Homo sapiens: one gene and its partners. The protein of the gene in region 1 interacts with the protein of each later gene in a pairwise test. Each region holds a gene or a part of one and is shown in the gene's direction. Other genes may lie near its edges.

What was found. The genes of interacting proteins can lie anywhere in the genome.
Region 2: the proteins of TUT7 (region 1) and KLK6 interact in binary tests that used the Homo sapiens proteins (3 or more experiments, as listed by UniProt).
Region 3: the proteins of TUT7 (region 1) and NDUFV2 interact in binary tests that used the Homo sapiens proteins (3 or more experiments, as listed by UniProt).
Region 4: the proteins of TUT7 (region 1) and PECAM1 interact in binary tests that used the Homo sapiens proteins (3 or more experiments, as listed by UniProt).

The regions. Positions count from the first base shown.
Region 1 is NC_000009.12:86,344,411-86,347,910, reverse strand, and holds part of TUT7 (terminal uridylyltransferase 7), read left to right. Parts: intron 1-1,430; coding exon 1,431-1,612; intron 1,613-2,125; coding exon 2,126-2,242; intron 2,243-2,756; coding exon 2,757-2,934; intron 2,935-3,500. UniProt on the Homo sapiens protein: Uridylyltransferase that mediates the terminal uridylation of mRNAs with short (less than 25 nucleotides) poly(A) tails, hence facilitating global mRNA decay. Essential for both oocyte maturation and fertility.
Region 2 is NC_000019.10:50,963,092-50,966,591, reverse strand, and holds part of KLK6 (kallikrein-6 isoform A preproprotein), read left to right. Parts: intron 1-2,081; exon of another isoform or gene 2,082-2,164; intron 2,165-2,925; exon of another isoform or gene 2,926-3,036; intron 3,037-3,042; coding exon 3,043-3,290; intron 3,291-3,500. UniProt on the Homo sapiens protein: Serine protease which exhibits a preference for Arg over Lys in the substrate P1 position and for Ser or Pro in the P2 position.
Region 3 is NC_000018.10:9,126,699-9,130,198, forward strand, and holds part of NDUFV2 (NADH dehydrogenase [ubiquinone] flavoprotein 2, mitochondrial precursor), read left to right. Parts: intron 1-132; coding exon 133-209; intron 210-3,500.
Region 4 is NC_000017.11:64,384,361-64,387,860, reverse strand, and holds part of PECAM1 (platelet endothelial cell adhesion molecule precursor), read left to right. Parts: intron 1-3,500. UniProt on the Homo sapiens protein: Cell adhesion molecule which is required for leukocyte transendothelial migration (TEM) under most inflammatory conditions.

The DNA.
Region 1 (3,500 bases):
TAAAAGAAGTGCTTATCTGAAAAAAAAAAATTGTTCAGACCAGAAATACTGGCCTTAAAAGATTATGATAATTTAATTGGGAGTCGGGGGAGTATTAAAAAGGAAATATTAAGGTAGCGCAAGGTAGCCTGATTTTCTGTTGAAATGACAACTTACCTTTTAGTATTTTATTTGTTCAGTGTATTTTGATTGATTTTTTAAAACTACTTTTCCAACACTTTAATTTTTTTTAATTTTTTAATTTTCTTATATTGTGGAAGGTGTTTGCAGAATTTTGAGATAGTCATCTCAGGTAGTTTTAGCACAATGCTTGCTGCTTATCCTTTAGCGCTCTCAGCAAGCTTTTTATAAAATTGGAGGTCCTATATTTCCTTTTCAGCCTGCCAGTTCATTGTAATTGCCATACTAGTAGTAATGAGTTCCTCTGAAAACTTGATGGAGGAATTACTTCATGTAGGGCTTTTCAGTAGGTTTATGTTTCCAAGCACTAATGTGTTACTAATAGTTTCATTTTTTAAAACTCGATATAAGTTATCAAAGCTATCTAAAACAATTTTTTATGGTTTAATCCCACAATCACTTTAACAAGTTGAAAAGTTATAAGTTTTAAAAAGGAACAGGATGATTTTTATTCATTATAAGGATTATAGAACTAATAGCAGAGTTTATAAACAAATGTACTTAGAGAAAACTTTTGTTTCAATGGCCAGTTGTTTTTTTCCTTTGAAATATGCTCAGTGTACAGGCCATTCAAAGAAGCTAAAATGAAGGTAAAGGTAAAATGAGAGATAGTTGTCCTTAGTAAATAAAATTTTGGCTTGGACTTCTTCATATTAACGGAGGGACCCGGCTTAGGTGTTATTGATGGCTAAATTTGCAACTAAATGATGATTTTTCACTCCAGATGAGTATATAGTTGATTTCTGAGTTGTCCAGGGGTACATTTTGCATTTTGCCTTATTGAGATTGTTCACTTATAGAAGATGAAAGCAAATGTGGCTGGTTTTAATGAGAATAACAGGTGTACTTACAGATATTATAGAATATGTAAGATATATTTACAATATGTATTGTAATATTTTAATATAATAGAATTATAGATATACTTGCCTTCAGAGTATAATTTTTCTGTTGCTTTGCTATGCTCAGCAGTATACCAGGAAGAGATAATAAAAATCAAATTGTATGATTGAAGTAGAATTCTTTTAAATTTTCCAAAAAGATGATTTCTATGGCTTAATGTCTACAGGTGATGTGCTCACTGAATACAGTATTAAAGCATTTTGTCCATAGGACAGCTACCTTTCCTTCTGCTCTGCATGCAGATGTGATTTATTCTCTCACATGATTTAATACATATGTAAGGTCTGCTTTTTACTCAGGAGTGGCATTATTTAATATTGCCAATAATATTTTTCCCCCACCTTAAGAAAACAAGAAGCAGAGGTCCAGACCTAGGAAGCCACGGAAGACTAGAAATGAGGAAAATGAGCAGGATGGAGACTTGGAAGGCCCTGTGATCGATGAGTCTGTACTTTCAACGAAGGAGCTGCTAGGCTTACAGCAGGCTGAGGAGAGACTGAAGAGAGACTGCATTGACAGGCTAAAAAGGGTAACATCCTTATATATATATTTGTTGGTTAGAATCCTGGTTTTAGCCTCAATTTTGTTGTTAATTGAGTATGCATGCTCTGATCAATTAGATATCCTACTTTGGTTATCAGTATTTAAGCACTACAAGTTAAAAGTGATGTCCAGTGTGATTTAATAGGATTAGGAGTCATTGCTATTATACTTAAAATGACTGTTAGGGTAGTGATAAAGGGAACAATAACAGTAGCAATTTTAAAAGTGAAGAAGAAGCCAGGCACAGTGGCATGCCTGTAGCCCCAGTTACTTGTGAGGTTGAGGCAGGAGGATTGCTTGAACTCAGGAGTTTGGGGCTGTAGTATGCTATAATGGTATCTGTGAATAGCCAGTTCACTCCAGCCAGGGCAACATAGTGAGACTCCTGTCTCTTTAGAGAAAAGAAATTGAAGGGGAAATCATTTCCTGGCTGATTTTGTTTATCTGAATGTTTGGTTTTACTTATGTCTCTCTCTAAATAAATCTCTTCAAATTATAGCGACCACGAAACTACCCTACAGCAAAGTACACCTGCAGACTCTGTGATGTTTTAATTGAATCCATTGCATTTGCCCATAAGCATATCAAGGAAAAGAGGCACAAGAAAAACATTAAGGTAAATTGAATGTAACCCAAACAAGTCTGCTTACTTGTTAGTTGTTATTACTTGTCATCTTTGTGGCTTTCTTCTCCTTAAGGCTATGATATTGATAACTTTACTGCTTTATTTATTGAATATATTTGAGCCAAAATACATAATACTGGTCAGATGTATTTTACTGGTTAATCTTGTGAATTTCCTTAAGGGCAGCATCAGGTTATATGAAGTCATTGATAGGACCCAGGTATATGTCCTTATACTAGTATTAAAGCAAACAATGTTTGTAAGTGCTGTTTTTAATATTCTTTCCTTACACTTTCTCCTTATGCCCACCTATCCTCTGTTACCACTGATCCACATTATGTGCATAAGGAAGTATGTATATGTTTGATAGGATGAAAACTAACACAGCTAAAATGAGAAGGGAGGGCTAAGAAAAAGAAAACTCTATAGGGTGTTGTCTTCATGAGTGGTAGAAGGTCAAAACTATGTGTAAGTCATTTTTAATCTCAACATTTGATCTTAAAAGGAGAAGCAAGAGGAAGAGTTGCTCACTACGTTACCCCCACCAACACCCTCCCAGATAAATGCAGTTGGCATTGCCATTGACAAAGTGGTACAGGAATTTGGCTTACACAATGAGAACTTGGAACAGAGGCTGGAAATTAAACGTATCATGGAAAATGTGTTCCAACACAAGTTACCAGGTATTTTCTAGATTTGTTTTTCTATTTAACTACCTAAAAGTACCTCATTCATTTCTCCTACCAATAGTAATTTTCATCAAATAAAAATTTATTTACCATGTCATGAAGCTCTTGTGTTTTCTATTTTTTTGTTTTTTGTTTTCCCTGGCTTTCCCTAAGGTAACAAGGACTTTCATATGCATTGTCATTATAAACCTGTTTCCATTATAAATTTTACCCTGTGTGTGAACTTTAAGTTGAATGCCCTGCATTATTGGGGCACTGTGGGACTCTTGTGTATGTATGTTTCCCTTTCCGCTCATCTAAATTGACACCATATTTTGAGTTAAAATCAAGAGAAGTATCCTGAAGTTATTTTCAGGTTATTCATGTCAAAAAAAAAAAAAAAGATTTTATTTAACTGTACTTAAGAGAATTGCAGCATCTAAAATGAACTTTGAAAACTAGTTTTAAGAAATTTGTATTGGATTTTGTGCACTGTTGAATTGATTTTCCAAGTTATGTCTGTCTTCTGCCTGTTTTTAACTTTAGACCTTTGGCATGATGGGGAGGGGGCACAACTATTT
Region 2 (3,500 bases), on another chromosome or scaffold:
TGACCTCAGGTGATCCGCCCGCCTCGCCCTCCCAAAGAGCTGGGATTACAGGCATGAGCCACCACCACACCCAGCCTGATTTACATTTTTACAAGCACCCTGGCTACCACGTGGAACGTGGTCTGGGCAAGAGAGAGGGAGGGAGGCCCACGTGGGGGCTGTTGCTTTCATCCGGCGACATAGGAGGGTGGCTTGAACCCAGGCGGTCGCAGTGGGGATGGAGGGATGTTGAATATCTTGGGATGTGGAATTCTGAGACTGAGCCAGCAGAATCTGGCAACGAGGAACAGGAGGGAGAGGAAGAAGCACGGCTGGCTTCCGTGTATTTGTCCTGAACAACTGGGTGTTTTGCCACGTCTTTCTCTGAGTTGTGGGAGAGGGAAAGAGAAACAGGCCGGGTGTAGGCAGGGGAGCATCTGACATTTTGCTTTAGCCACGATGAGTTGGAGATGCCGGGGAGATGTCCCAGCAGGGAGGCCAGGGAGGACTCTGGAGCTCAGAGGAGAGGTCAGGGCTGGAGGTTAAAATGAAGGCATCGTCAGCAAACAGGTGTATTTAAAGCCATGGGACTAGATGAGATCATCCAAAAAGCTGGCATAGTTGGAGGAGCTGGAGGGCCCAGGACAAAAACCCTGGGCGCTGATCCTCACTAGTCAGATTCACGACAGCTGCCACTTGTTTGATGCTAACTACCAATCAGGTGCTGAGTGAAACCATGTACACACCTTTCCTGGAATGCCCACCACAAGGGACTCTTGGCACCATTTTGCAAATGAGGAAACTGAGGTGCAGGGAAATAGCAAGTGACAATCCCTGGGGTGGTTCCCCTGACCCCAAGGAGACCTTGGATGACTCTCACCACCATCATTCATTCCTTTGATGTACATTGACTAAGAGCACCTGCTAAGTGCCACATTCGAGTTGGGCAGTGGAGATTCAGCAATGGATGGGACACACACGTCATCCCTGCCCTCGGGAGCACAAGGACAGAAAGGTGCAGACAAGCAAAGTGAGGGCTGGGCATGGTGGCTCACGCCTGTAATCCCAGCACTTTGGGAGGCCGAGGTGGGTGGATTACCTGAGTTCGAGACCAGCTTGGCCAACATGGCTCAACCCTGTCTCTACTGAAAATACAAAAAATTAGCCAGGCGTGGTGGTGGGCTTCTGTAATTCCAGCAACTTGGGAGGCTAAGGCAGGAGAATTGCTTGAACGTGGGAGGCGGAGGTTGCAGTGAGCCGAGATCGCGCCACTGCACTCCAGCCTGAACCACAGAGCGAGACTCTGTCTAAAAAAAAAAAAAGGAAAGAAAGAAGCAGCAAATTGGGCTGGCCGTGGTGGCTCATGCCTGTAATCCCAGCACTTTGGGAGGCCGAGGCGGGTGGATCACTCGAGCCCAGGAGTACAAAGCTGCAGTGAGCTGTGATCTACAGAACACCACTGCAGATCCAGCCTGGGTGACAGAGCGAGACCCTGTCTCAAAAAAACAAACAAACAAAAGAAGCAAACCCTTCAAAACCCCATATAATTACAAATTATGAAGGAAAAGAATACGGGTACCTACTTTAGATGGAGGAGGGTCAGGAAGGACTTTCTAATGAGATAAAATCCAAGCGGAGGCATGAAGATGGGAAAAGGAATGTTCAGGGCAGAGGAAAGGCTGTGATAACACCCCTGAGGTGAGAACCGTCTTGAGTATTCTCAGAAAATAAAATTTCCCGTTCACTGGGGGGCAGAAGGTGCTGGGAGATAAGGTTGGAAAGTGACTACAGCCAGATCACACAGGGGCTCCAGTGCCAAGTGGAGGAGCCCAGGCTTTATTCTTAGGACAATGGGGAGCCATGGGTGATGTCTGAGCAAGGGAGTGACTCTCTGTTTCAGGAATATGTATCAAACACCTATCCTGTGCCAGGTGCTGATCAACGCACTGGAGATACTATATCTGAATAGAACAAAAATCCCCATCTTGACATCCTAGAGCTGCACTGTCTAATATGGTAGCCATCAGCCACATATAGCAAATTACATTGAAATTAATGAAATGGAAAATCCACAAGCCACATTTCAAGTACTCAGCAGCCACCTGTAGCTTGTGGTTCCCCCAGCCACCTCTGGACAGTGCAGATCGAGATCATGGCATCGTAGCATTTAGTGGACAGCATTGCTCTGCAAGGAGGAGAAATAACACAATGAGTAAATATTTAACAATAAATATATAGCAGGTCGGATGATTGTGATAGGTTCTCTGGTGGAACAGAAAGCAGGGGAGGGAGATAGGAATTGCCTACTAACAGGTATTTGTATTTTAATTGGGCAACTAAGGAAGGCTTCCCTGAGAGGCGACATTTAAAGGAAGTGAGGGAGTGAGCTATGCAGATACTTGGAGGACAGACTTGCTGGCAGAGGGAACAGCAGTGCAAAGGCCCTGAGGTGGGAAGATCACTATTGTGTTCAAGGCAAGACAGGGAAGCCAGCGTTTGGCTGGAGCAGAGGGAGAGAAGGGGAGAGTGGGAGGAGAAGATGTCTGTGAGATGATGGGGCAGTGCTTGCAAGGCCTGGTGTGCCACGTTGAGAACTTTGGCTTTGATTCTGAGTGAGATGGGAGTCATAGGAGGGGCTGAGCAGAGGAGGCACAGGACCAACTTACATTGTTAAAATATCTCTGGTTGCTTTGTGGAGGATGGACTGTGGGGGACCAGAGACAGAGCAGGGAGCCCAGTGAGGAGGCTACTGCTCTAGTTCAGGTAGGAAGTGAAAAGGCAGCTCAAACCAAGATGGTAGCCGTGGGAAAGGTGAGATGTGGCCAGATTCTGGATATGCTTCAGAGAGGCAAAAGGAATTCTGGACAGCTTGGATGTAGGGCATGAAATAAAGAGAGTGAAGAATAGCCCCCAAGATTATTCTGAAAGGATGGAATTGCCATTTACCCAGCTGGGGAAGACTGTGGGAGGAGCAGGCCAGCGATTCATGACTTCCCAGCCCTCTCTGAAGCCTCAACTGCAGCCCAAGGGCTCCAGGTGAGACCCAGCCCTCTTCCTTCCCAGGAATCTTCAGGTCTTCCTGGGGAAGCATAACCTTCGGCAAAGGGAGAGTTCCCAGGAGCAGAGTTCTGTTGTCCGGGCTGTGATCCACCCTGACTATGATGCCGCCAGCCATGACCAGGACATCATGCTGTTGCGCCTGGCACGCCCAGCCAAACTCTCTGAACTCATCCAGCCCCTTCCCCTGGAGAGGGACTGCTCAGCCAACACCACCAGCTGCCACATCCTGGGCTGGGGCAAGACAGCAGATGGTCAGTAGTGGGAGGCTGGTGGGGAGCAGGCTACTGGCTACTTGGGGAAGTGTGCCAAAGGATGGGGAGTGGGAAAATTGGTGAGGGGCCATGGGAAGATGGGCTAATGGTGAGGACCAATGGGACAGGGTTTCAATGGGAGAAAGGTCAAGGGGGAGGGAGAGTGAATTTGGGAGCTGGGCCAGTGAGTGAACAGCCAATGGAAAATGT
Region 3 (3,500 bases), on another chromosome or scaffold:
CTGAGGTAGGAGGATTGCTTAAGCCCAGGAGTTGGAGACCAGCCTGGGCAACATAGTGAGACCTTGTCTCTATAAATATATCGATATAAAAGAAAGTAATTTAAATATGACTATTGTTAATTTTTTTTCCAGGAGGATTTGACAGCTAAGGATATTGAAGAAATTATTGATGAGCTCAAGGCTGGCAAAATCCCAAAACCAGGGCCAAGGTATGCTTTATTTATATATAGGAAGTTTTAGTGGCTCACCTAAATTAATCTTTCAGATAAACTTGATTTAAAAAATTTTATACCTTAAGTTCATAGGAATTGGTAGGAGCTTTGGATAGTATTATCTATATGAATCTCATCTAGAGCAAGAATAATTTTTTTTCTAAAACCCTGTCTGATAATCATCCGATACCTGAATATTTATAGAGAAGGAAATTTTACTACAAATAGAAATCTATTCCATTATTTAAAAGTTCATACTGATAGAAGATTGACCCAAAGACCATCTCCCTCTAATTTCTACCTAAAAATCCAATTCTGCCCTTTGAATCAACAAAAGATAATTTTAGTACCTCTTCCAAATGACAGCTCTTCAATTACTTGAAATAGCTACCCTGTCTTCCCCTTATCTTTTTCTCAGATGGAATATCCACAATTGTTTCATTGTTTTTCTCATATGACATAGCTTTGGTCTCCCTCTGTGGGTTTTCTAGTTGGCTAGTGACTATTTAATGCTTTAATGTGATGCTTAAACTAATCATGGTTTTTTGTCTTTTTTATTTATTTATATTTTGAGACGGAGTCTCACTCCGTCACCCAGTCTGGAGTACAGTGGCGCAGTGGCACAATCTCAGCTCAGTGCAAGCTCCACCTCCCAGGTAGAAGTGATTCCCCTGTCTCAGCCTCCCGAGTAGCTGGGATTACAGGTGCCAGCCACCACGCCCGGCTAATTTTTTGTATTTTTAGTAGTGACGGGGTTTCACTGTATTAGCCAGGATGGTCTCCGATCTCCTGACCTCGTGATCTGCCCGCTTCAGACTCCCAAAGTGCTGGGATTACAGGCATGAGCCACTGTGCCCGGCCTAATCATGGTATTTTGAGATACATACTGAGCAGCACAGAGCATTGTGGGACTGCCTCCTTTGTTCCAGACATTATGCTTGTAATAATTGTGCCTAATTATATCAACTCCTACTTCAGAGACATTACACAATTAACTGCACTTCATAATACCTAGATCTTTTTCTGTTCACTATTTATCCAGGTTGCTCCCGTCCCATACCTGTGTTACATTAATTACTTTCCTTTCAGTTATGAACTTGGATTTTCACTTTTAAACAAACCCTTATTCCATGTATGTGTTCAATCACTCAAAATTCTCTCTTAATACTAGCAAATGTTCTCATGGTTTTAGTCATAATCCCTCAAATTTTTTGTTTATGTATATAAATTTTTTCTTCCCTCAGCACATTTGGAGTTTTTGATGTCCATACGGTATTCTAATGTTTTAAAACAGCTGTGATGTGCTCTTACTCCCGTTTTAAAATATTTTTCTTAAGCTTTATTATAAATAACAATTCCCTGAAGTAGAATTACTAAGAGGGTATGAGTGGTTCTAGAGTTTGCTCTCTAAAACTACTAATAATACCCTACTTAATGAGAAAATGAGGTCAGTTCAGGATAACTTAAGTTTAGTAAATGCTAGCTGGCCCCTGTTGACCATTACTTTCTTTTCTAAGAAACGTATACTGTTCTTAACAACCTGAGCCTATAGAATTGAATTTGCTTAAAGAGTGTTGGCATTTTCTTCCTAATTCCTCACTTTCTTGGGTATACCCCTTTTTTTAGGAGGTAAATCATTTCCCTGGTGAAAAATCATTCTCCTTTATGGAGGCAACTGAAGTAAAACCTTTAGTCATCTATCATTACAGTATCTTTCTTAGCTAGTGCTCCTATCCCTTACTTATTCTTGCTTTAAATAGACACTGTCCCCCCAAAAAGTACAAATTTCATAATATTTTCCACAAGCTTCATCTGCTTTTTAGGATTCAGGTATTTTAAAATAAATTCATGCTATTCTTAGGTTTGTACTTCAGCCCATAACTTCTTTCACCTTTTGGGTACTCTAAAGAATATCTCAAGTGCAGATTTCCTTGTGAAATCCACTTGGGTTCTTTAGATGGCCCCTCTCTTCTGATTAGATGTTTTGAATTCTATAGTCATAACTTTGGTGTTGGGCTTCCTCCCCCCCACTCCTCCCCTCACCCGAGATGGAGTCTTGCTCTGTCACTTAGGCTATAGTGCAGTGGTGTGATCTCGACTCACTGCAACTTCTGCCTCCCAGGCTCAAGCGATTCTCCTGCCTCAGTCTCCCGAGCAGCTGGGACTATAAGAACGTGCCACCACCATGCCCAGCTAATTTTTGTATTTTTAGTAGAGACGGGGTTTTACCATGTTGGCCAGGGTGGTCTCGAACTCCTGACCTCAAGTGATCTGCCTGCCTTGGCCTCCCAAAGTGCTGGGATTACAGGCTTGAGCCACCACGCCCGGCCACTTTGGCGTTTAGAATCTTCTGCTTTGCTTCTTGTGAACTGTGGGATCTATGGTTCATATTAATCTAGTATTACTCTCCTGCCACACAAATTGATACCTGCTTTGTCTACTTTGTTATGTCACATTACATTAAATACTCAACAGTAATTTTTTTCACAAATTTTTTTGAGTGCCTGCTGTGTGTCAGGCATTATTTTAGGTTATGAATACAATTATGAACAAGATAAAGTTCTCATATATCTTCTAGTGATGGAGACAGATGACTAGTGTAATATGTGAGTGATAAAAAGGCTACACAATAAAATGTAGCAGGTGTTAGGGGATAGATAGGGAGTAAATTTAGTGAGGAGAGGCCGCTTAGAGGTGGTAACATTTGAGCCATGACCTGAATGAAGAGCTAGAGGGAACCATGTAAAGAGCTGAAGGAACAATGTTCCAGGGAGGGGAAAGAGGATGTATCAGGGTCCTGGAAGAAAAGTAAGGTAACAGTATGGCTGCAGTGAGGTGCTCAAGCAAGAAAGCAGTGGAAGGGGTCAGAGGAGATAAGGGCCCAGATAAGTAATCTGGGCTGAATCTTAAATATAATAAAAACTGTTGGAATGTTTTCAGTAGGGAATGGAATGAGCAATCTTAAAATACTGCCATAGTTGCTATGTGGAGATTAGAATTTAGTAGATATGTGGGACTAAGGATTTATGAGTGATTTTCAGCTTTTTGGCTTGAGCATCTCTGAGGTTCCTTTACCGAAAATAGAGAAGATTTGTGGTAGGGCAAGTTTGGGGAAGAAAAGTCAAATTTTGTTTTAGACATAGTAAGTTTGAGATGCCTGTTAAGACATCCATGGTATGATGCTGATAGGTAGATACGAACCTGGAATATAGGGAATAGGTTAGGGCTGGAAACACAAATTGGGGATTCATCAGTTACTAAGGGTAGTATTTAAAGTTATAAATCTGG
Region 4 (3,500 bases), on another chromosome or scaffold:
GCCTCGGCCCTTTCCCTTCCTTCCATCTCAGGCCTCTTTGTTCCCCTCCAGCCCGCACCTCACTGCAGCTGCCTCACCTCAGGAGGTGACGGCTGCTCCATCTTCACCTAGAAAACAGTCATCTGGAGGGAACTCCCTCAACTTCCCGCCTGGGCCTGGCTGCAGGCTTATCAGCCTCTCCACCCATCCTCTCGGTTTCCCTCCCGGCCTCGGAGGACACATGCACCCTGCTCCTCAGCTGATGGGGGCCAGCCAGGCACTTAGGCTGAGACCCTTCCTCACCCCCAGGACCCCACGCCTACGTGCATTCAAGTCCCTCTCCCCTACCACCACTTCTAGAATCTCTATTTCTGCTTCTGGCTCTGTTCTCTCAGTGAATGGGAACTCTTTTTTTAGGAAAAAGAAAAATCACAAGCAGACACCCACCCCCACCGTTTATCTGGTGTCCCCCTATCTGGCCTTTCTAGTTTCCTTTCTCAGTCGAACCTCTCTGAAAGTTAGTTTATAATCTGTGCCTACCCACCTCACCTCTCAGACACGCCTCGCCTCCCAGCAGCCTGGCCTCAGGCCCCACTTCTCCGGCTGTTGGGTCTCCTCTTGCTGAGGGGTCACCAAGGACCACCTGATGCCAAATGCAACGGACACTTCCAGCCCTCGGCTCCCTGTACCCCTTTCCTGCCTTTGACTTTTGATCGTGCCCCAAAGCCTCGCTCCTTGACCTTTTCCATCCTCTTCCCTGCTTTGTCTCCTCACTCTCTAACAAACCCTCTTCCTTCTCCCCCATGGCTGACTTTGGACTTACTTTGTCTTCTCCTGGAGTCTGAACCCTGTCCTGGTCTCTGCGGGCTCCTGGTCTTATCCTCCCTGGAGACCAGCTCCCCTCTCAACACCTCCACATTCCCCCCTCCTCCCCTAAGTTCACACTCCTCCCACCTTCACAGTCCAGCCCTGGCCTCTGCCCTGAGCCTCCAGTTAACACAGGCTGACCTTTGATGTCTCCTCCCAGTCCTCCTACTGGCCCCTCACACGCAGCTGCACCACCATCACTTTGTCTTCCTTCCTTATCTTTTTCTGTTTGTTTGTTTGTTTTTGTAGAGACTGGGGTCTCATTTTGTTGCCCAGGCTGGTCTCAAACTCCTGGGCTGAAGCCATCCTCCTGCCTCGGCCTCCGAAAGTGCTGGGATAACAGATATGAGCCACCACACCCAGCTGCGTGTGGCATTTTCTATTTTAGTTTGGTGGCACACACATCCTCCTGGGAATCTAATCCAGGAAGTTTATCTTCCATTCTTTCAACCCCATATCCAATCAAACAAAGTCTTTTTTTAAATTGTGGTAAAATACAAATAATATAACATTTATTATTAATGACATTTAGTACATTCACGGTGTTGTGCAACCATCACCATTGTCTAATTCTAGAACATATTCTTTCTTTTTCTTTTTTTTTTTTTTTTGACAGAGTCTCACTCTTGTTGCCCAGGCTGGAGTGCAGTGGTTGGATCTCAGCTCACTGCAACCTTCACCTCCCAGATTCAAGCAATTCTCCTGCCTCACCCTCCTGAGTAGCTGCAATTACAGGCACGAACCACCATGCCCGGCTAATTTTTGTATTTTTAGTAGAGACAAGGTTTTGCCATGTTGGCCAGGCTATTCTCAAACTCCTGACCTTAAGTGATCCACCTGTCTTGGCCTCCCGAAGTGCTGGGATTCATTCTAGAACATTTTCAACACCCCAGAAACAAGTCCTGTTGAGTCCACTCAGGAGATCCCCAGCCTATCCTTCCCTCATCCCCACTGCACCCGCCTAGCTCAGGCCTCATCAGCTTTCACCTGAACCACTTCCAAGCTGTTTACTGGCCTTGGGTGCTGTCACACCCCTCCTGACACCCTCAGGACAGGGCCCAGCTTGTCAGCACAGCAGGCCAGCCCTCCATTCTGGCACGACAGACCCAGCCACCTGGCCTCTCTAGCCCCACACTCTGGTTTCTGTAATGGGCCATGCCCAGAAGGCACGGATTTCTCACACCCTCGTGTCCTGGGACACGCTGTTCTCTTACCTGGAGTACCCCACTGCCTGTCCTTGGCCTGGCAGGCTCAGTTCAGTGGTCACTTCCTTCAGACTCCTTGACCTCTCCTGGGCAGCCCTTCCTCTTGGTGCTTACTGATATCACTGGAGTCCAGCTATGTGGGCCCCAGCAACCTTTGCTGTTTGGGACAGCAAGGATGATTTCTTACTTACTCTGTCAGCCCAGCACCTGGCACAGGTTCTCGACACATGTCTCATTGGATGGGAACTTGAACTGAACTTGGAGATGCTTGAGATTCGGGTAGGAAGATGGCTCAGCATGCTCTCTGATGAGCACAGAAGTTCATCAGGGACTCTATGCTTCGTGGCTCCCAGTAATTTTCCTGACGAGGGTGGGCAGCCCCTCCTTCTCCTGCACCCTCCACTTTCTCTCTGAGTCATTTCCAGGTTGAGGGCCAGGGGGCTGGCTGACTGATGGTGCCGCATGTTTCCAGGGAGCACCACCATCCACTGATGAGTGGCCTTGAGGTCAAGGTCCCACTGTTTTTAGCATGTTGGGGTTTGGCACTGTGGTCACTGGCTGTTCCGTGGTGACTTTCCAAATTTAGATCCTTCTCCGTCAACCTTCATCTCCCCGGGTTGAAAAGATCTGACCTCTTTAGGCTGTCCCACAGCCCCACCCTTCATCACAATAGTCCTGAAACTTTTTGGGTTCAGTAAGGAAATCTGTGGGCCTTCTCTCCAGAAAAAGCACACATTTGCACACAATTGGAGGTAGTTGATGAGCCTCCTAACACCCACCCATGCACCTCCCAGGGGCTGTGTCCCCCAGGTTGTGAACAGTCACTCTGTGTAAATAGTGAGACCTACAGGCAGTAATTCAGTTTGGCTGTGCTTGGCTGGTTTATTTAGAAAGATGATAATGTTTTCCATATTATCAAAACAAGAATCAGGCAGAGACTTTTGAAGTTTGGTTGCGTGGTATATTTGTTACCTATTGCTGCATAACAATTTACCTAAAACTTACTGGCTTAAGATAACACAGATTTATTATCCTGAAGTTTCTGAGGGTCAGGAATGCAGGAGTGGCTGAGTTGGGTGGTGCTGGCACCGGGTCTCATTAGATTGCAGATAAATTGTTGGTCAGGGTTGCGGTTATCTGAAGGCTTGACTGAGTCTGGGGAATCTGCTTCCAAGCTCACTCCTGTGGCTATGGGCTGGAGGCCTTAGTTCCTCATCCTGGGTACCTTCCACAGGGCTGCTTATGCTATGACTGCTGGCATTCCCCAGAATGAGGGATCCCAGACAGGAGAGAGAGTGATCAGGATAAAAGCTGCATTGTCTTTTATTACCTGATGGAGTATTTTGTTGGTTAATGTTAACGTGGGAGGTGACCACGTGTAAGTGTGATGAGCAGAGGGCAAGGACCATTGGGGGGGGCATCTTGAAGGGCTTCTATAGCAAGGGAGGT